Homo sapiens: one gene and its partners. The protein of the gene in region 1 interacts with the protein of each later gene in a pairwise test. Each region holds a gene or a part of one and is shown in the gene's direction. Other genes may lie near its edges.

Region 1 (7,393 bases):
CTTGGGAAGTTGAAATGGGAGGATGGCTTGAGCCCAGGAGTTCACGGCTGTAGTGTGCCATGATCATGCCTATAAATAGCCAGTGCAGTCCAGCTGGGGCAACATAGTGAGATCCTGTCTCTACCGAAAAAAAAAAAAGAGATACAATGATAGAGAAAACCTCATTTACAATAGCATCCATAGCATCAAAGAAAATAATTAGGAAGAAATCTAACAAGAAATGTGAAAAAAATCTATGTGTGGAACACTTTAAAATGCTTCTGTCAAAACCCATTGATCTTTACGATATAAAAAAAGTTTGTTAATGTATGCAAAATTTTAAAAAAAGCAACCAGGAGGTCAGGGAATCCAGTATGGAATGGAGACTGTGACAACATAATTTATATATTACAAATGTAGGCAAGGGCCGGGCACGGTGGCTCACGCCTGTAATCCCAGCACTTTGGGAGGCTGAGGTGGGCAGATCCCTTGCAGCCAGGAGTTTGAGACCAACCTGGCCAACATGGTGAAACCTGTCTCACCAAAAATACAAAAATTAGACGGGCATGGTGTCACGTGCCCATAATCCCAGCAACTTGGGAGGCTGAGGTAGGAGAATCGCTAGAACCTGGGAGGCAGAGGTTGCAGTAAGCCAAGATCGGGCCACTGAACTCCAGAGCGAGACTTCATCTCAAAAAATCACACACATACAAAAAAAAACCAAAAGTAGGCCTAGTGTGGTGGCTCACCCCTGAAATCTTAGCACTTTGGAAGGCAGATGTGGGTGGATCACTTGAGCCCAGGAGTTTGAGACCAGCCTGGGCAACATAGTAAGACTTGGTTTCTACAAAAAATTAAAAAAAAATTAGCTGGGCATGGTAGCCTGTGCCTGTAGTCCCAGCTACTTGGGAGGCTGAGGTAGGAGGACTGGTTGAGCCCAGAAGGTCGAGGCTGAAGTGAGCCGAGATTGCACCACTGCACTCCAGTCTGGATGACAGAGCGAGACCCTGTCTCAAAAAAAAAAAAAAAAAGAAAAAGAAAAGGAAAAGGCCGTGTGTGGTAGCTTAGCTCACGTCTTTAATCCCAGCACTTTGGGAGGCCGAGGCGGGTGGATCACCTGAGGTCAGGAGATCGAGACCAGGCTGGCCAACATGGTGAAACCCCATTTCTACTAAAAATACAAACGTGGTGGTGGGTGCCTGTAATCCCAACTACTCGTGAGGCTGAGGCAGGAGAATCGCTTGAACCCGGGAGGCAGAGGTTGTGGTGAGCCAAGATCACGCCATTGCACTCCAGCCTGGGCGACAAGAGCAAAACTCCGTACACCCTCACCCAAAAAAGTTGTTAATATTCCTAATATGCAAAGAGGCCAGGTGCGGTTGTGCACACCTGTAACCCCAGCACTTTGAGAGGCAGAGGCGGGAGGATAACTTGAGGTCAGGAGTTTGAGACCAACCTGGCCAACATGGTGAAACCCCGTCTCTACTAAAAATACAAAAATTAGCTGGGCATGATGGTGGGTGCCTGTAGTCCCAACTACTTGGGAGGCTGAGGCAGGAGAATCTCTTGAACCCGGGAGGCAGAGATTGCAGTGAGCCGAGATTGCACCACTGCACTCCAACCTGGGCAACAGAGGGAGACTCTGTCTCAAAAGAAAAATAATAATTAAATTAAAAAAATAAAATAAGAACAGATATTAAAATGATTCTTGGTGGCATATGTCTGTAGTCCCAGCTACTTGGGGGGCTGAGGTGGGAGAATTGCTTGAGCCCAGGAAGTCAAGGCAGCAGTGAGCCCTGATTGTGCCACTACACTCCTGCGTGGGCGGTAGAGCAAGACCCTGTCTCAAAATAAAATAAAATGAAATAAAATAAGTTCGGGCACGGTGGCTCATGCCTGTAATCCCAGCACTTTGGGAGGCCGAGGCAGGTGGATCGCCTGAGGTCAGGAGTTCAAGACCAGCCTGACCAATGTGGTAAAACCCTGTCTCTACTAAAAATACAAAAATTAGTCGGGCATGGTGGCAGGCGCCTGTAATCCCACCTACTTGGGAGGCTGAGGCAGGAGAATTGCTTGAACCTGGGAGGCGGAGGTTGCAGTGAGCTGAGATCGCGCCAATGCACTCCAGCCTGGGCAACAAGAGTGAAACTCCGTCTCAAAAAAACAAATAAATAAAAATTAAAAATAAAATAAACATAGGACAAGGTGGTGAATCTCACTCATAATAAGAGAAACACAAATTAAAACTACACTAAGAGAATGGATAAACAAATTGTGGTATAGTCATACTATGGATTTTGTTTTGTTTTGTTTTGTTTTTGAGACAGAGTTTTCCCCTCTATCGCTAAGGCTGGAGTGCAGTGGCACGATCTCGGCTCACTGCACCCTCCACCTCTTGGGTTCAAGCGATTCTCATGCCTCAGCCTCCTGAGTAGCTGTGATTACAGGCGTGTACCATCACTCCTAGCTTATTTTTGTATTTTTAGTACAGATGTGGTTTCACCATGCTGGCTGGGCTGGTCTTGCACTCCTGACCTCAGGTGATACACCTGCCTCGGCCTCCCAAAGTGCTGGGATTACAGGCGTGAGCCACTGAGCCCGCCCGGCCCATACTATGGAATTTTACTAGTCAATAAAAAGAAAAAAAGATACTTATACACGAAACAACTTGGATGAATCTCAAAAGGATTATGATGAGTGAAAGAAGCCAGACAGAAAAGGATACATCCTGTCTCATTCTATTTGCATGAAACTCTGCAAGAGAAATGTAATCCAGTAACAGGAAGCCAATCATTGGTTACCTGGGATAGGGGGTGGGGTTTGGGATAGGATACAAAGAAATCAATGTTCCCTATCTTGCTTGTGATGGTGGTTACAAGGTTGTATACATTAGACAAAGCTCACTAAATTGTACCCTTAAAATGGGTGCATTTATGTATATAGACAGATCAATAGCGTTATCTTTCAATAAAGTCAATTAAATCAAGAAAGAAATCAAAGAGTCCTGGCTGGCAATACTTTTCTTTTTCTTTCTTTTCTTGGAGACAGAGTCTCGCTCTATCCCCCAGGCTGGAGTGTAGTGGTGCGATCTCGGCTCACCGCAACCTCTGCCTGGCGGGTTCAAGCGATTCTCGTGCCTCAGCCTTCCGAGTAGCTGGGATTACAGGCGCCCACCACCACACCCGGCCAATTTTTGTGTTTTTAGTAGAGATGGGGTTTCACCATGTTGGCCAGGTTAGTCTCGAACTCCTGACCGCAAGTGAACAGCCCTCCTTGGCCTCCCAAAGTGCTGGGATTACAGGCGTGAGCCACCGCGCCCGGCCCTGCTGGAAATATTTTTCCACAGCAGGGAAATCATTAAATTCTACGAAAATAAGAAGGCTGGGCGCGGTGGCTCACGCCTTAATCCCAGCACTCTGGGAGGCCGAGGCGGGCGGACTACCTGAGGTCGGGAGTTCGAGACCGGCCTGACCAATATGGAGAAACCCCGTCTCTACTAAAAAAAAAAAAAAAAATTACCCGGACGAGGTGGCGGGCGCCTGTAATCCCAGCTACTCGGGAGGCTGAGGCAGGAGAATCGCTTGAACTCGCCAAGCGGAGGTTGCTGTGATCGGATATCGTGCCACTGCACTCCAGCCTGGGCAACAAAAGTGAAACTCCGTCTCAAAAAAGAAAAACAACAACAACAACAACAACAAAAACAGAAAGAAAAAAGAAAATAAGAAAAAAACTACACTGAGATACCATTTCTTACTCTCAGATCGGTGAGGGTTATAGTGAATTCTAATACTTGAATGAGCCTGGTGTTTCACCACCCTGGTTTGTTTTTTGTTTTTGTTTTGTTTTAATGTAGCTTTTTCGTTTGATTCACTGTCACTCTTTCCACTCTGCTATTTTTATTGGTGGCTAAGTCCTTTACCTAACGTGACATGCAGTATCATGATAACAAAATAAGTGTCAAACCTTAAAAAAAAAAAAAAAAAAAAAGGCCAAAGGCTTTACAAGAGGTGGGATTCCCCTTTGGGGTCTCCCGGAGGAGGGGCGGGAACAAGACCAGAGCGAAGCTTCCGCTTTCATTTCTATGGTTATTAAGTTACCCATTCTCATTAAAGGAATACCGCGGAAGGGTGATTTTCTGTCGGCAAAGACTTCCCTAGCGACGAGTCCACCCATGAAACGGGGATGTAATAATGTCGTATCACAATGGGTGGCCTAGAAGAGTCCAAAAGCCAATCAGATGACTTACATTCGGGTAGAACGTTGTATTACAGTTCACCTGACTCGTCGGTTTCGTTCTCTTCTCTGCGTCTCCAAAATGCTGCCCTTCGGAATTAGGTTCTACCCCCTCCATTCCTGGCCAGTGGTTTGGTCCGACCTTAATACTGCCAGGAGGCGCGAGCTGCGTCTGCGCAGAAAGCTGGCGGGGGGGTGGGGGGAGGAACATGGCGCAAGCTCTGTCTGAGGAGGAGTTTCAGCGGATGCAGGTGCCGCTCGCGGTGGGAAAGACCACCCGGCTAGGCGACCGGGGGCGGGGTAGCGAGAGGTCGTGCTATCAGCTCTGAGAAGGGGTTGGTTGGGATGGACCCTGAGTTTATGGGGTGGGTCTGGAGAAGGGAAACTGAGGCTCGGAGTGGTGAGACTATTGGATTCCGAGATACTCTGCGGCTTTGAAGGTTGGACTCTGTTAGCATTGTGGGCTGGGAGAGCGCCATTAAGTAGGCGGTACCTTACTCAGACCTGGAGGGGACGAGACTTTTGGGCCCGTGCAGGGGACACCGTCGGCGGGTGATGATAATGGGCTTTGAGGGAAGGAGATCCTGAGAAGGCGAAACCATTTTGTCTGGAGAGGAAGGAAGCGGGTGTTGGGTCGTTTGCGTCATGGTGGTGGGAGCCCTTGAGAGGGCAGAACCATTAGCGGGTGGGAGGTGGTAAGTTTTGGGGGAGATACCACTGTGCCCGGGGATTGGGGAAAGACCCCAGATGTTGTCATTGTTCCTGGGAGGTGGAGATCCTGTGCCATTGGTGGTTGGTAGTGCATCCTAAGAGGGGGCGGCACCATTGGATGATTAAGGGTGATCCCATTAGGCCTGGGGTGAAGAAGGCCATGAATGGGTAATACCATTAATCCCATTAACTGGGGGGAGGACCAGAGGGGTAAAAGATTGATACCTTGGACTACAAGGAGGGAAGATCACTGGGCTTTGGGGAGGTACCCCCACTTGATTCTTTTGGGGGGACTCTGAGATGCAATGAAAGGCCATAGCATTGCACTATGAATGGGCCCTTGTTGAGAGGGTTCCTCACTGGGGGGGGGGTCTGAACAGGGTCCTGCATGGGGAGGGGAGGAACTCTGAGGGAGGACAGGTAATCCAATTGGTCCTTGAATGAGGGAAACCAGCTGTCCCTGTGTGAGGGACACTGAGAATGGAAGGGCGAGTTGATTAACCCATGAATGGGGAAGACCACTGTCATCTGAAAGGGATTCTAAGTGAGTAAGAGTCATCCAACTGGCCTACCCAAGGCCTTGTAGAGGCCTACCCTGAAGGGTGTAGGGCCATTCCCAATGGATCATGACTGGGGAGATCTTGAGGGGAGTGGGAATACCCTTGAATGAGGAACATTGATCCCACTGGGCCATGAATGAGGGAGAACTACTGGGCTTTGTTGGGGGGCAAGTCTCGGGGGGTACAAAGGATATTCCACTTGGACCAGTACTTGGAGAGACAGATCACTGGGTCCTGGAGAGGACAGGAGTAGGAAAGATTCTGTGAAGGCCAAGCCCTCTGACCTTGAGCAGACTACCAGAGAACAGTGAGTGGAGGCTGGTGGCGTGGGAGGGAGGGAAAAGTCCTGGTAGGGGAAGGAACAGTAAGTTCCTTAATGGGAAGGAACCGGCCTTGCTGGGTAGAACCAGCCTCAGGGTCCTATAGGGCTGGTAGGGAGGAGGATGCTTAATTCTTTTTCTTTTTCTTTTTTTTTGAGACAGAGTCTTTCTCTGTCACCCAGGCTATAGTGTGCAGTGGCACGATCTCAGCTCACTGCAACCTCCACCTCCCGGGTTCAAGTGATTCTCCTATCTCAGCTTCCCTAGTAGCTGGGATTACAGGTGCGTACCACCACGCCCAGCTAATTTTTGTATTTTTAGTAGAGATGAGGTTTCACCATGTTGGCCAGGCTGGTCTTGAACTCCTGACCTCAAGTGATCTGCCCACTTTGGCCTCCGAAAGTGTTTGGATTACAGGTGTCAGCCACTGCGCCTGGCACTTTCCCTTAATTCTTTTTTTTTTTTTTTTTTTTTTTTTTTTTTGAGACAGAGTCTCACTCTGTCACCCAGGCTGGAGTGCAGTGGCACAATCTCGGCTCACTGCAACCTCCACCTCCCAGGTTCAAGCGATTCTCCTGCCTCAGCCTCCCGAGTAGCTGGGACTACAGGTGTGCGCCACCACACCCGGCTAATTTTTTATATTTTTAGTGGAGACGGGGTTTCACCATATTGGGCAGGCTGATTTTGAATTCCTTACCTCGTGACCCACCCGCCTTGGCCTCCCAAAGTGCTGGGATGACAGGTGTGAGCCACCGCACCTGGTCCTCCCTTAATTATTGAAGGGGGCCTGGATGTATTTTGAGAGCCTTGGAGGTGGGGGGACCCTGGAAAGCCCCCTGACTCAATGAAAGTTGGGCAGAATACTTGACCCTTTTCCCTTAGGAAAGAGGGAGGAAGACAGGCCCTTAACCCCCTGCCATCAGAGGCCCCCAGGTCTGGTCAGAAATATGGACAACACCCCTGACAGTGTGTGTTCAGTGTGTGGAGAGGTCAGCCAGGATGAGGAGGAGGAACTTTATCCTGTGGGCATGGAGAGCCAGGGAACTCACACAAGCAAGACCCTGACTGGGGGCAGTGCTCTGGGATGGCCTGAGTGCAGCGTGGATTGTAGTGTGAGATGGAGGGGTGAGGCTGGCTGGGGTTATAAGTGGAGCTGGAAAAGGTGAGCCAGGGTCTGAGGGCCTGGAAGGTCACTTTGGGTGTAGCACATACAGGTCTTAAGGAGTAGCTACAGAGGCACATGGAGGGCGTAAGGTCTGTGGAGCTTAGGGGCTTGGTTCCCTCATGGTAGGGGTAGGGGCGCTTTCCTGACCAAGTCTTTTCCCTTCCTGCCTCCCCCAAAGGCTCAGCTCCTGGAACTCCGGACAAACAACTACCAGCTTTCAGATGAACTACGCAAGAATGGTGTTGGTGAGCCAGGAGGGCCTTATTAGATGGGGGTGGCTTTGGGGAATGGTGTCCGAGGTTTTCCCTCAGAGGCCTGGCAGGAAGGCCTTTCAGTTTCTTGCCACTGGCTGAGGCTGAGTTTCCCTGCTTTCCCGACACCAGAACTCACCAGTCTTCGACAGAAGGTCGCCTACTTGGATAAGG
Region 2 (7,969 bases), on another chromosome or scaffold:
GAGCGCCTCGGCTCCTGGTCCCTTCCTGTCTTCAGGCAGAGTGAGCCTCTTCAAACCTCTCCCCTCCCTCCCTCCCTCCCTTCTTTCCTTCCTTCTTTCCTTCTTTCTCTCTCTCTCTTTCTTTCCTCTTTCTTTCTTTTTCTTTCTCTTTCTCCTTCCTTCCTCCCTCTCTCCCTCCCTACCTCTCTCTTTCTTTCTTTCTTTCTTCTTTCTCTTTCTTTCTTTCTTTATTTCTTTTTCCTTCTTTTTCAGACATTGTCTCACTCACTCACCCAGGCTGGAGTCCAGTGCCACAATCTCAGCTCACTGCGGCCTCTGCCTCCTGGGCTCAAGTGATCCTCCCACTCCAGTCTCCCGACTAGCTGATTTTGTCCCATGATTTTGTAGTATTTCAAGACCAGTATTATGAATATTAGTTTTCATTTTTCTGGCAACTATTTAGTTCTGGCTAACAGAGCACTGACTGGATAAGTATCAGGTCACAAAATATTTACCATGGGTTCATATGATGTGGTAAACTTGTGTCTTTCATGGGGGCTTTTAGCTAAAGCAGTAATTAGAGGTATTGTAAGATGAACCCCTTAGCTAATTGCAAGCTGTACCTGACGTCTCCCATGAAGACAAGCAGCCAGATCCTGAAATTCATGACTGATGACTTGTGAAAGTCTAACGCATATTCTGCAATGATGTGCCATGGGCCTCTGCCATTTCACCTCACCATCACGCCACAAATTAGTACTCACAGCTGAGAGTTTAGACCTAAAAGGGGCAATAAAATTGAGTTCAAATACTGTATTAAGGGACTTGCCCAAAATTACATAATTATTTTGTGTAAAGTCCAAATTATACAAATCCTCAGATTCCGAGGTCGGGGTTTCTTTTCCTGTAACATGTTCCTTCAAATATGGCTGTATCCATGTTTCATATCAAGCAGATCCGAGAAAAATTATGAATAATCAGATAGCATAATGTGGACACAGGGTCACGAGCAATAAAGGGTTCTTATAGAGCTATTAGGAAGAGCATGGTGCCTGCGAGCAGTAGGAAGATTGTTTTATGTATTTATTGGCCTTATAACTATGGTTTAGAAGTGGCAGGAACCCACAGAGGTATACCTACAGAAAGACTTAAAAGAAATAAAACTCCCAGCCTCAATGGGGTATCATGCCACCCTCAGTACCACTATCTCAATCTTAGGCTTCATACACATACCAAGAAACTTCCCACTTCTTTTAATACAAGAACTTTCAGATTTTAAAAATCTTCTCAGGATTCTCTCTCCTCTGTGACCTCTTCAGCAATGGTATTGGAAGTCATGGGTTGATGTTATCTGGCTGAGGGGTTTATCTAGAAATGTCTCCTGACTTCAGGTCTCTTTAGATGTAAGTTAGCTTCTTCCTCTGTCCGTACTCAGTCTCAGCTGGTCACTGACTATGTAATTTCCTTTCTAATCAGTTGGGTCCTACTGCAGAAACAAAATAACACAACGTAGAGTAAATACATTATTGGGATGGCTAGCAGTCATTGGGCATTTTTCTCTGTTCATTATCTTGAAGAGCATACTGTACTCCCTCAATTCATTTTAAACAAAAAAACTTTAGAATGTAATTAACGGAAATTCTCACTATTGTGGATTGAGTCGTTTTTATATGTTGCCTTACCACTTTGCTTAAAGGGGCAATGTCTTTCCTTATTCTCAACCTTTACGAAATATTGTACAGAGAACATTTTTAAAGAGTGTGTAATCCCAGCACTTTAAGAGGTTGAGACAGGTGGATCACTTGAGTCCAGAAGTTCGAGACCAGCCAGTGCAATATAGCGAGACCTGTCTCTACCAAAAATTCAAAAATTAGCTGGGTGTGGTGGTGTGAACCTGTAGTTCTAGCTACTAGGGAGGCTGAGGTGGGAGGATTGCTTGAGCCTAAGAGGTCAAGGTTGCAGTGAACCGAGATGGTGCCACTGCACTCCAGCCTAGGCAACAGAGCAAAACCTTGTCTCACAAGAAGAAGAAAAAAAAAAAAAGGAGTGTGTCACTTATAACATTCAGACTCAGCTCATAAAATCCAAAAGAAACATGGAGTTTTGAGTGTGCTGAAATGCACCACTGACGGGACAACTAGAAAATGAGTAGAAAATCTTTATCTGTTTTGTTTTTTTTTGAGATGGAGTCTCACTCTGCCGCCAGACTGGAGTGCAGTGGTGCCATCTTGGCTCACTGCAGCCTCCACCTCCCAGGTTCAACCAATTCTCCTGCCTCAGCCTCCCAAGTAGCTGGGACTACAGACGCGTGCCACCACACCCAGCTAATTTTTTTTATTTTTTTATTTTTAGCAGAGACAGGGTTTCACCATGTTGGCCAGGATGGTCTTGATCTCTTGACCTTGTGATCTGCCCACCTCAGCCTCCCAAAGTGCTGGGATTACAGGCGTGAGCCACCATGCCCGGCCGAAAATCTTTATCTTTTGGTTCTATCATTGTACACTACAGCTACTGGTAATAGTATTAAGGCATATTTTACAATTCATATTTGGATTCGATCACAGGGCTCACACTCTCTTATCTTCACCTCTCACAAGTTTTGCCATAAGAATTTTGTGGTAGTTTGAGGAACTCAACACAGCTGCAAGTATTTCGCTGGAATCTACTATGATCTGTGTCACTTGAGGCACAGAGTGAGCTCATGTCATTCTTTGGATGACATGCACCCCTCCCTAACTTATTCCGACATTTAGTCATCCAAGAATTCACTCAGCTCTGGTGGGGTGGGCTCCAATCTCAATGGCATCTCACCAGTTCCCAGGTCATATTGCCCATTTGCAGTGATGATATTTAGAAAAGGTGATTTCTTTTGTCAGGGTCTGTACCACTATAGAAGTAGTCCTTTGAACCAGAAATTTAAACACATAAGCTACTTTAAAAAGTGTATCTGCTGCTACTCCAAGCAGCCAGCTCAGGAACTGGCTTCTGATTTTAAAAGATGAGTGAAAGGTGTGCCGTGGTTTCCTCTACAGAATGTTCAGACCAGAGGGCCCTGGAAGACCATGCCTGAAATGCGGCTAAGGCACCGCGAGGCTGAACAGAAAACCGGGGCCTTATCAGAGAGAAGAGAAGGGCCCCACAGTCCAAACGCCCAGGAGCCTCCGCCCTGACCTGCTGCCGCACGTGGTTGCTGCAGGGTGAGAATCTGGGGAAGACTCAATGAAGAAAATGTCCTGGCCAGGCCGGGAAGAGCAACACACAGAGAGCCGCAGCAGAGACAGGGATGGGGGGACCCTGCCCTGGGAGCCGCCCGGCTGAGGCTCAGGAGGGGAGCTGCAAAGCCTGAAACCTACACAACCTCTCACACACTTCAGGACACACACAACCCCTCACGCACCTCAGGGACTCACACAACCTCTCACACACCTCAGGAAGCTACACAAACTCTCACACACCTCAGAAACCTACACAAACTCTCACACACCCCAGGGACTCACACAACCTCTCACACACCTCAGGACACACACAACCCCTCACATACCTCAGGAACCTACGCAAACTCTCACACACCTCAGGACACACACACAACCTCTCACACACCTCAGGACAAACACCCACTCACACACCCCAGGACCCAAGCACAACCCCTCACACACCTCAGGACACACACACAACCCCTCACACACCTCAGGAACCCATATAAGGAACCCACACACCTCAGGCTCATACACACAAGCCCTCACACACCTCAGGAATCCACACACAACCCCTCACACACCTCAGGGTCTCACACACAATGTTGACACACCTCAGGGTCTCATACACAAACCCTCACACACCTCAGGACCCACACAATTCATCACACTTCTCAGGACACACATAAAACCCCTCACACACCTCAGGGGCCCATACATAACCCCTCACACACCTCAGGACTCACACACAATCCTCTCACACACCTCAGGACTCACACAACCTCTCACACACCTTAGGACCCACACACAACCACTCACACACCTTAGGACCCACACACAACCTCTCACACACCTTAGGACCCACACACAACCACTCACACACCTTAGGACCCACACACAACCTCTCACACACCTCAGGGACCCACACACAACCACTCACACACCTCAGGACCCACACACACCTCATACACCTCAGGGACACACACAACCCCTCACATACCTCAGAAACCTATATAAACTCTCACACACTTCAGGACAAACATACAACCTCTCACGCACCTCAGGACACACACACACACACTCGCACACCTCAGGACACACACACACACTCTCACAGTTAGAATGACACATGGGGACAAAAGTGCCTTCTGTTTCCTCTTTGTAGTATTCTCTTCATTCATTCATGACGTCGGCATTTACTGCCTATTGCATGCGAATCGCTTGCAGAACTATCCAAGTGACACACGTCCCAAGCAGGCTCAGGTGAGCCCCAGGTGTATGTTGTCCACACGCAGCACCATGGATGAGAAGGACAGCCAGGGTTTAACAGGAATATCGACTCTTGCTTGCTCCTCATTCTCTTCTCTATCACAAAAATCACACGGACAATTCAGATGGAGATGCATTTAGTGAAATGATGAAACTTTGAATCCTGTCTCCTATTTAAACTCACATATATTATTTTCCCTTCATAAAAATGTTTTTTCTAGTAAATAATTTGATATCCGAAGAAAGTTTGTATTTCTCCAAGAATGTATGCTCAGAGAAATGAGCTCTTACTACACGTTGCGTATTGAAGACTGGATATAAAACACATGGTTTTTGTCAATTTGGAGGAGTAGTTTGACTCTCTCCAATGTCCTTTGTGGATGGATGGACTCCACTGACGATGAGCTTCTATATTAAGAATTGCAGGTTTGGGGATGTTTAATTATTATCTGAGCTGGTACAGTGGTGACGCTGAGTGAGACGTTCATGTCCCTTTAAGACAGAAAGTCCGTTGGAACTGTCCGCTGCTCTCTGGTCTCTGGATATGAGGCAGGAGGGCTTGGGGACAACTGTGGGGACATGGCCCAGATGATCTGATCCTGGCAGTAGTGACTGTTGGGGACCAGGTGAGGTGACGAGGTCTGGTGGTGGGGCTGAAGGAAAGGGTCTTCCCTGGACTGAGGGGGTCATGAGTTTGGGGCCGAGGACACTGGGGTGTCCCCTCAGAGGAGCAGGAAAGAAGGAGCTTTCTCAGGGCTGTGAGGACCGTGACCCCAGCCCACTTCCGCAGAAACATTCCCAGTCTCCGCGGGGAAGGAATGGCAGTGATCTGGTTACTGGTAGGTCTTGCTCTAGACCTTCGATTCGCTTCCATCAGGAGACTCTCTTTTAAATAGCATTTCTCCGATCACTGTGGTTAAACTGTTCCTTCTCACACAGTTAGAAGTTTATGAATTAAACAGTCGGGGTTTCGTTGGGGGCCACTGGCTTCCTAAAACGGACAGGGCAAGGCAGGGGTGGAGGCAGCTTTCAGAGACGACCCTGCAGGCTTGCAGGAAAGCTTTGCGTTTTTCTCTTTCGTTTTTGTTCTCTAATTGCTGTGAACTTCCTAGAACTGGCATAAATGCTGTACCTATAAAAAGGTGTTTCCTTTCCACATCTTCACCATGAATTCACAAATGTCACCCTGATGGTTCAAGACACATACTCAACACGGTGGAGGGTCTGCCTGTGCCCCTCCAGGTGGGTGCTGATTAAAGGGCTGAGAATTCCCTCGGTGTCTCATGCGACCCTCCACTCACACCTGCTCACACCCTGAGACCATTCCACTCACACCTGCTCATACCCCAAGACCATCGTGCTCACATCCGCTCACATCCATTCACATTCCGCTCATATCCTGCTCACAACCCACTCACATCCCACTCACACCGGCTCACACCCCACTCACACCCCTCTTTGGATGACTGGAGTGTGTTAGGTGTCAGGCTGATCTTCTAGGATCTAAAGCATTTTCCACGGAGGATGGTGGAGAGCCAGGTGTGGACAGCTCAGTCCCTCTGTCTGTGGTGTCCTTTCACCTGGTCAGCTTCGGGCCTGGGAATGTGCACATGACCCAGGGGGAGAAGGAGCGGCTGCGGGTCCTGCTCACCCTTAGTTTGGGGCTGGGGCCTTCAGCCCACACTGACGGGGTAGGAGGGCTGCATTCAAGTGTCCCCATAGCCCTTCCCTTCCCAACCAGGATGCTGGCAGGTCAACTCGAGGCCAGGGACCCCAAAGAGGGCACCCACCCAGAGGACCCGTGCCCAGGAGCTGGGGCTGTCATGGAGAAGACAGCTGTGGCAGCCGAGGTTCTCACGGAGGACTGCAACACTGGGGAGATGCCAGTGAGTTGAGCTCTGTGGGGACAGAGTTAGTCCCACCAGGCGGGACCCTGATTCCTGTCCCTGAGGCCCGTCATTGGACTTTCCCTTGCTGGACCCCTGTAGGAATGCACCACCCCGGGACACTGATTCTGTACTTCCTCTCCAAGGGGCATGTGGCTCTTTCCCCCTCTGCAACCGTATCTCTTGGTGGATGGGAGGCAGGGCAGGGAGTTAAAGAAAATATTAACATTCCAGCTTTTCTCCTCTAATCCAGGAGAAGGCACCAGACTTTAAAAACTTCATTAAAGAAAATCAGAAAGTTGACATGCCTCACATCATCCCAGCAAGTTTCCTGATTTTTACCATCTTCCTCATTGGACCCTGTTGGACAGTGCTTGCTGTCATTAAAGTCCCACGGGTCCCTGTGGCCAGGGCCACCCAGTGCAGGACTGTACCTTTATCACGATCCCACTTATTCTCAGAGCAAGGCTGGAGGCTCTACGATCCAGTGAAGGATCCCAGGGGAAGGCTAACATGTTAGGTTGAAAATGCAGTGGCTTCCATAATTTTTTTTTTTTTTTTTTTTTTTTTTTGAGACGGAGTCTCGCTCTGTCGCCCAGGCTGGAGTGCAGTGGCGGGATCTCGGCTCACTGCAAGCTCCGCCTCCCGGGTTCACGCCATTCTCCTGCCTCAGCCTCCCACGTAGCTGGGACTACAGGCGCCCGCCACTACGCCCGGCTAATTTTTTGTATTTTTAGTAGAGACGGGGTTTCACCGTGTTAGCCGGGATGGTCTCGATCTCCTGACCTCGTGATCCGCCCGCCTCGGCCTCCCAAAGTGCTGGGATTACAGGCGTGAGCCACCGCGCCCGGCCGGCTTCCATAATTTTTAAACTATTGACCATATATCCATGCCAGTACAGCCTTTGAGACCAGTCTGGCCAACATGGTAAAACCCTGTCTCTACTAACAATAGAAAAATTAGCCAGGTGTGGTGGCATGTGCCTGTAATCCCAACTACTCTGGATGCTGAGGCACCAGAGTTGCTTGAATCTGGGAAGTGGAGGTTGCAGTGAGCTGAGACTGCGCCACTGCACTCCAGCCTGGGTGACAGAGAAAGACACTGTCTCAAAAAAAAAAAAAAAAAAAAAAAAAAAAGGAAAAGAATGCCAGCCTCTTTTTGCTGTAGTAGTGTTTTAACAAAAAAATCATAATTCACTAACCATCTTTATCTGGTTATATTATGTGGACTAACTCATAATAAACACTACTTAATAAGAATAAAGCTATGGCCAGGCATGGTAGCTTATTCCTGTAATCCCAGCACTTTGGGAGGCCGAGGCAGGTGGATTGCTTGAGCCCAGGAGTTTGAGACCAGTCTGGGCAACATGGTGAACCCCCATCCCGAGTAAAAATACAAAAATTAGCGAAGTATGGTGGCACATGCCTGTAGTCCCAGCTATTTGGGAGGTCGAGACAGGAGGATCGCTTGAGCTCATCAAGTTGAAGCTTCAGTGAGCTGAGATCATGCCACTGCACTCCAGCCTGAGTGACTGAGTGAGACCCTGAAAAAAGAAAAGAAAAGAAAGAAAGAAAGGAAAGAAAGAAGAAAGAAAAAGGCTGTGGTAGTCCTGTTTATCTCATCGGGTGTCTTTTATTCCAG
Region 3 (7,022 bases), on another chromosome or scaffold:
GAGATTTCTCTTGTACTGGGGTGACAAATATTCATGCATTTATTCAAGTATTTACTGAGTACCTGCTCTTTGCAAGTCATAATTCTAAACACTATGGAAACAGGAGAGAATATGATAGCCATGTTCGGCCTGGGGAGACAGATACCAAATAACTAATTACACATTATTTTTTTTAATTTTTTTGTTTTTTGAAACAGTCTTGCTCTTTTGCCCGGGCTGCAACCTCTACCTCCCTGGTTCAAGCAATTGTCCTGCCTCAGTCTCTTGAGTAACTGGAACTACAGCCACAGGCCACCATGCCCATCTATTTTTTTTTTTTTTTTTTGAGACAGAGTCTCGCTCTGTCGCCCAGGCTGGAGTGCAGTGGAGCGATCTCGGCTCACTGAAAGCTCCACCTCCTGGATGCACGCCACTCTCCTGCCTCAGCCTCCCGAGTAGCTGGGACTACAGGCGCCCGCCACCACGGCCAGCTAATTTTTTTGTATTTTTAGTAGAGACGGGGTTTCACCATGTTAGCCAGGATGGTCTCAATCTCCTGACCTCGTAATCTGCTCTCCTCGGCCACCCAAAGTGCCGGGATTACAGGTGTGAGCCACCGCGCCTGGCCTAATTTTTGTTTTGTTTTGTTTTTGAGATGGAGTCGCACTCTGTCACCCAGGCTGAAGTGCAGTGGTGCGATCTCAGCTCACTGCAACCTCCACCTCCCGGATTTAAGCAATTCTTGTGCCTCAGCCTCCCAAGTATCTGGGATTACAGGTTTCACCATGTTGGCCAGGCTGGTCTTGAACTCCTGGCTTCAAGTGAGCCACCCGCCTCGGCCTCCCAAAGTGCTAGAATTACAGGCATGAGCCACCGTGCCTGGCCCTAATTTTTGTATTTTTAGTAGAGATGGGGTTTTGCCAGGCTGCCAAGGCTGGTCTTGAACTCCTGGCCTTGAGTGATCCACCTGCCTTCCAGAGTGCTGGATTACAGGCATGGGCCACCGCACCCAGCCAACTAATTACACATTTATTTAATTACAGTTGGATAAGTGCTTTAAAAAGGTGGCTAGAATACCTTGACATAGATCGAGGGCAGTTAACAGAGTCTGGGAAAGTTGAGTTTGAGCTGAACTTTGGAAGAACGAACAGGAATTTAATAGGCCAAGAGGGATGGGGTGGATGGGATGAGGAAAAGCGAGCGGTGCATTCCAACTAGAGAGAACAGCATGTGGAAAGCCAAATGGCAGGAGGAGCACAGGCCAGTTTGAGGCAGTGCGAGGAGGCCAGTATGGGCAAAGCAGAGCACAAAGGGAGACTGACATGAGTTCAGGCTGGTGTGAGGTAAGCAAGGGCCAGAAAGCGCAGAACATCTTCAGAGCAGTAGGAAGTGACCAGAAGGTTATAAGCGGGAGAGTGACTTGATTAGGTTTGCATTTTTTATTTTTGTGTTTGTTTTTGTTTTTGTTTTTTTGAGTCAGTGTCTTGCTCTGTCATCCAGGCTGGAGTGCATTGGCGTGATCTCGGCTCACTGAAATGTCCACCTCCCAGGTTCAAGGGATTTTTGTGCCCCAGCCTCCCAAGTAGCTGGGATTACAGGCATGTGCACCAAGCCTGGCTAAGTTTTTGTATTTTTGGTAGAGACAGAGTTTCACCATGTTGCCCAGGCTGGTCTTGAACTCCTCAGCTCAGCTGATGCGCCCACCTGGGCCTCCCAAAGTGCTGGGATTACAGGCATGAGCCACCGTGCCTGGCCAGGTTTGCATTTTTTAAAAAGGACATTCTGGCTACTATATGGAAGTAGATTGGAAGTGTTATGTGTATAATAGAGGATACCAGGAGACTATTTGTAATTTGAGGACAAAGAGCTTGGAGGCAGAGATGGAAAATAAAAGAAAGGGGCCCGTCTTAGTGGCTCATGCCAGTAATCCCAGCACTTTGGGAGATCAAGGCGGGCGGATCACCTGAGGCCAGGAGTTCAAGACCAGTCTGGCCAAAATGGTGAAACCCTGTGTCTACTAAAAATACAAAAATTAGTCGGGTGTGGTGGCGCGCGCCTGTGGTCCCAGCTACTCCAGAGGCTGAGGCAGGAGAATCACTTGAACCCAGGAGGTGGAGGCTGCAGTGAGCCAAGATCGTGCCACTGCACTCCAGCCTGGGCAACAGAGCCAGACTCCGTCTCAAAAAACAAAAAAGGAAAAGAAAGGGAAGAGCTTTTTTTTTTTTTTTTGGAGACAGAGTCTCGCTCTGTCACCAGGCTGGAGTGCAGTAGTGCAGTCTTGGCTCACTGCAACCTCTGCCTCCCAGGTTCAAGTGATTCTCCTGCCTCAGCCTCCTGAATAGCTGGGATTACAGGTACGTGCCACCACACCTGGCTAATTTTTATATTTTTAGTAGAAACAGGCTTTCACCATGTTGGCCAGGCTGGTCTCGAACTCCTGACCTCGTGATCCACCCGCCTCAACCTCCCAAAGTGCTGGGATTACAGGCTTGAGCCACCACACCTGACGGGAAGAGCTTATTTATAAAGGAAGGTCACTGAAGGCGAAAAGGGTGGGATAGCCATGCAGAAATGGAAAGGTTTTGTAGAGAAAGAGTTAAGCATGGCCTGTCATGAGAGAACTGATCCATCCTGTCACAGATAAATCCAGAGGTTCAGAGGAAGGAAAACTGAGCTGCACTTTATTTTTTGTTTGTTTGTTTGTTTGTTTGAGATGGAGTCTCACTGTGTCGCCCAGGCTGGAGTGCAGTGGTGCGATCTCGGCTCACTGCAAACTCCGCCTCCCAGGTTCATGCCATTCTCCTGCCTCAGCCTCCTGAGTAGCTGGGAGTACAGGCGCCCGCCATCGCACCTGGCTAATTTTTTGTATTTTTAGTAGAGACGGGGTTTCACCATGTTAGCCAGGATGGTCTCAATCTCCTGACCTCGTGATCTGCTCTCCTCGGCCTCCCAAAGTGCTGGGATTACAGGTGTGAGCCACCATGCCTGGCCATTTGTTTGTTTTTGAGACAGGGACTTGCTCTATTGCCCAGGCTGGAGTGCAGTGGCTCAATCACGGCTCACTGCAACCTCTGCCTCCTGGATTCAAGTGATTCTCATGCCTCAGCCTCCCAAGTAGCTGGGATTAGAGATGCCCACCGTCACACTAGGCTAATTTTCATATTTTTAATAGAGATGGAGGTCTCGCCATGTTGGCCAGGCTGGTCTTGAACTCCTGGCCTTGAGTGATCCACCCCCTTGGCCTCCCAAAGTGCTGGGATTGCAGGCGTGAGCCACCATGTCCGGCCTGAACTGCACTTTAAAAGGAGCTGTAAGGCCTATGCATAGTCAGTCCTGTGATTGTTTCTCTCTCTTCCCTAGGTATTGAAAACCTTCCCTTTGAATTACAGAGAAACTTTCAGCTCATGAGGGACCTAGACCAAAGAACAGAGGGTATGTATAGAGTAAAAAGTTTTTGTATCTAATGAGTGTGTGTAATCATTTATTTTTCTACTTGATGTTACCGTATCATCTGGTATGATCTGGAGAACTGTGGCTTCTCTCGCTCCTTTTTTACGCTCTTGGAATTCTTAAAACAGGATAATGATCCTCATTTCTGTGTCAGCTTTTTCATAACAAATAGAGTATTGTGAAAACGCCTCAAGAATTCAAAGATGCTGTGTTCTTTATGTCTTCCTGGAGAATAATTAGCCAGGCTGGCTCACACCTGTAATCCCAGCACTTTGGGAGGCCTAGGCGGGCAGGTAACTTGAGGCCAGGAGTTTGAGATCAGCCTGGCCACATGGTGAAACCCCATCTCTACTAAAAATACAAAAACTAGCCAGGTGTGGTGGCACGCACCAGTAATCCCAGCTACTTGGGAGGCTGAGACGTGAGAATCGTTTGAACCTGGGAGGTGGAGGTTGTAGTGAGCCCAAATCATGCCACATGTCACTGCACTCCAGCCTAGGCAACAGAGCAAGACTCTGTCTCAAAAAAAAAAAAAAAGAAGAATTAAAGAAAGTCAACTCGAGTCATTTCTGCTCTCCACGTTTGATATATTTATAGGATGACTAGAATGTTTCTACTTCTCTCATTGTTAATGTTACTGTCACAAATTCCCAGTGTGACTTTAGACTGCAACATATGTTGGTAGATGGGAGGTTTGCTATATGAGAAGTCCTTAAAAAGAGAAAGAAAAAAGAAAGAGGAAAGAAAAAAAAGCAGTAATTGACAATGGGATCTCTATACCGTTCACACTTACAGAAGCATTAGATACCATCTCCAGCCTGGAACATTGAGCAAATTTGGCTGCATTGGGGCATTCACTTGGTTTCTTCAAAGATGTCTGTTGGAGCTATTCCCATACCCACTGAAGGATCTGTAGTCTTGTCTTCATTCTATGTAGCCATGTTCAAGGATGTAACAGACTGGTTTTGAGATACATGAAGCTGTGTCTTAAGTTACTCTGAGTTTACACATGAAAAGGTGAACATCATCAAAAACCCTGGACACAGTTCCCTGAGAACTGCCTGCCGAATGGTGAGAACCAGATTGCTTTTTTTGTAATACAGTTGTAACTCTTGAGTTCATGCATGGAAAGACAGTTGGAGATTATGGAACTATATGCTTTTTCAGCTTCTTCCAAGAGCCTGGAATGAAGTGGAGTATAAACAGTGTCTTCACAGATCCTCCTGGTTATCTGTTGCTGCACTATGTTAGAGTCAGACTTGTCTCTTACTACTGACATATTTATGAGCCCTTCCAAATATTAGTAAACATCTATAGTCTCAATGTCCTGGGACATTACCATTCTTCCAATATTAAAACATTTGGGGCCGGGTGCGGTGGCTTACGCCTGTAATCCCAGCACTTTGGGAGGCAGAGGCGGGTGAGTCTCCTGAGATAAGGAGTTTGAGATCAGCCTGGCCCATATGGTGAAACCCTGTCTCTGCTAAAAATACAAAAATTAGTCGGGTGTGGTGGCGCATGCCAGTAATCCCAGCTACTCAGGAGGCTGATGCAGGAGAATCGCTTGAACCTGGGAGGTGGAGGTTGCAGTGAGCTGAAATCACACTACTGCACTCCAGCCTGGGCAACACAGTGAGACTTGGTCTCAAAAAAAAATAAATAAAATAAAATAAAACATCTGGGAGACCGGGTGCCGTGGCTCATGTCTGTAATCCCAGTACTTTGGGAGGCCGAGGCGGGCAGATCACTTGAGATCAGAACTTCGAGACCAGCCTGGCCAACATGGTGAAACCACATCTCTACTAAAAATGCAAAAATTAGCCAGATGTGGTGGCGCACACCTGTAGTCCCAGCTACTTGGGAGACTGAGGCACGAGAATCCCTTGAACCCACGAGGCAGAGGTTGAGGTGAGCCAAGATCGTGCCACTGCACACCAGCCTGGGCAACAGAGCGTGACTCCGTCTCAAAACAAAAAAACGTGTTTGGAGCAATATCTAGGATGGACAAACAGGAAAAAAAGAAGTAATGGAAAATGAAAGAAGTTGCAATGATGAGCCAAATAGGATGGGCAGCCTGGCTGCAGTGGCTCACACCTGGAATCCCAACACTTTGGGAGGCTGAGGCAGGTGGATCATTTGACCAGGAGTTCAAGACCAGCCTGGGCAATATAGTGAGACCTCATCTCTAGAAATAATTTTTTTAAAAAAATTATCAGGGTGTAGTGGCATGTGCCTGTGGTCCCAGCTACTCCAGAGGCTGAAATGGGAGATCATTTGAGCTCAGAGGTTGAGGCTGCAGTGTGATCCATGATCATGCCACTGCACTCCATCCAACCTGGGCAATAGAGTGAGACCCTGTCTCAAAAAAAAAAAAAAAGAAAAATAGAGTGAGCAGTAAGATAAGCAGAATTGTTACATGGATGTTGGAGTAAGGTCTAATTTTAAATTGTGTGATATACTCAACTACTCAGGAGGCGAAAAGATAGAATCACTTGAGGACAGGAGTTGGAGGTCAGCCTAGGCAACAAACATAAGAGAGAACCTGCGCCTGCCTCTAAAAATAAATAGATTAGGCCAGGCATGGTAGCTCACCCCCAATAATCCCAGCACTTTGGGAGGCTGAAGCAGGCAGATTGCTTGACCCAGGAGTTCGAGACCAGCCTGGGTAACGTGGAAAAAGCCTGTCTCTACAAAAAAATAGAAAAAATTAGCCAGGCGTGGTGGTGCCTGAGATGGGAGGATCACCAGAGCTCAGGAAGTTGAGGCTGCAGTGAGCCATGATTGTGCCACTGCACTCCAGCCTGGGCGACAAAGTGAGACCCTGTGTCAAAAAGAAAAAATACTAATAATTTTGAAATGTATGATATTGATGTACAGACTTGGAAACCAGCAACAGCAGATGACTCAGCCTGATTTGCGGCAGACAACTGCTGTGGGATGTTTTTGAGAAGGAAACAATGGCTTTTGAGACAAAATTCAAGAAGCAGCAAGCCCTTCAAAGAAGCATCTTCAAACATGGACAAAAATACACTTCATATTAATGTGGTGTGCAAAGGATCCCTTGCTGTGTTTCAGTAATTTAAATTCCAACTATGATAGCAATGTTTTCAGCACCTTGAAAGGACCTTTAAAGCAAATATTGTCAGTATGTTCCATTACTTGAGTGCATGGCACAGTACCTCTGAACATTCAGTACTTTTTAGTTGGAAGGTTATGCTAATCAATGGAAAAGGTCCAAAGAACAAAAGGAAGAAATGTGTTTCACCTAGCCACTCAGGGGCCATTGTGACCAGGCCTCTGTCTCTGTTGTAGACCTGAAGGCTGAAATTGACAAGTTGGCCACTGAGTATATGAGTAGTGCCCGCAGCCTGAGCTCCGAGGAAAAATTGGCCCTTCTCAAACAGATCCAGGAAGCCTATGGCAAGTGCAAGGAATTTGGTGACGACAAGGTGCAGCTTGCCATGCAGACCTATGAGATGGTATGGCCCTGTTCATGGCTCCCCACCTACTTCCCATCTAATCCTCAGGGTCTTAGACCCCTCCTTCAACTGTGTTGGGATCTGTTTGGGGTCTGTGAGATCCATAAACTCTGC

The links. Proteins that work in one complex are often made in the same cells at the same time.
Region 2: the proteins of GRIPAP1 (region 1) and TCP10L interact in binary tests that used the Homo sapiens proteins (3 or more experiments, as listed by UniProt).
Region 3: the proteins of GRIPAP1 (region 1) and ING4 interact in binary tests that used the Homo sapiens proteins (3 or more experiments, as listed by UniProt).

What each region holds. Positions count from the first base shown.
Region 1 is NC_000023.11:48,999,258-49,006,650, reverse strand, and holds the start of GRIPAP1 (GRIP1-associated protein 1), read left to right. Parts: upstream 1-4,386; 5' UTR 4,387-4,421; coding exon 4,422-4,463; intron 4,464-7,146; coding exon 7,147-7,213; intron 7,214-7,351; coding exon 7,352-7,393. UniProt on the Homo sapiens protein: Regulates the endosomal recycling back to the neuronal plasma membrane, possibly by connecting early and late recycling endosomal domains and promoting segregation of recycling endosomes from early endosomal membranes.
Region 2 is NC_000021.9:32,582,520-32,590,488, reverse strand, and holds the start of TCP10L (T-complex protein 10A homolog 1), read left to right. Parts: upstream 1-4,965; 5' UTR 4,966-5,068; intron 5,069-6,183; 5' UTR 6,184-6,184; coding exon 6,185-6,328; intron 6,329-7,969. UniProt on the Homo sapiens protein: May be involved in transcriptional regulation. Has in vitro transcription inhibition activity. Acts as a tumor suppressor in hepatocellular carcinoma (HCC) cells.
Region 3 is NC_000012.12:6,653,116-6,660,137, reverse strand, and holds part of ING4 (inhibitor of growth protein 4), read left to right. Parts: intron 1-3,338; exon of another isoform or gene 3,339-3,339; coding exon 3,340-3,411; intron 3,412-4,224; exon of another isoform or gene 4,225-4,500; intron 4,501-6,741; coding exon 6,742-6,908; intron 6,909-7,022.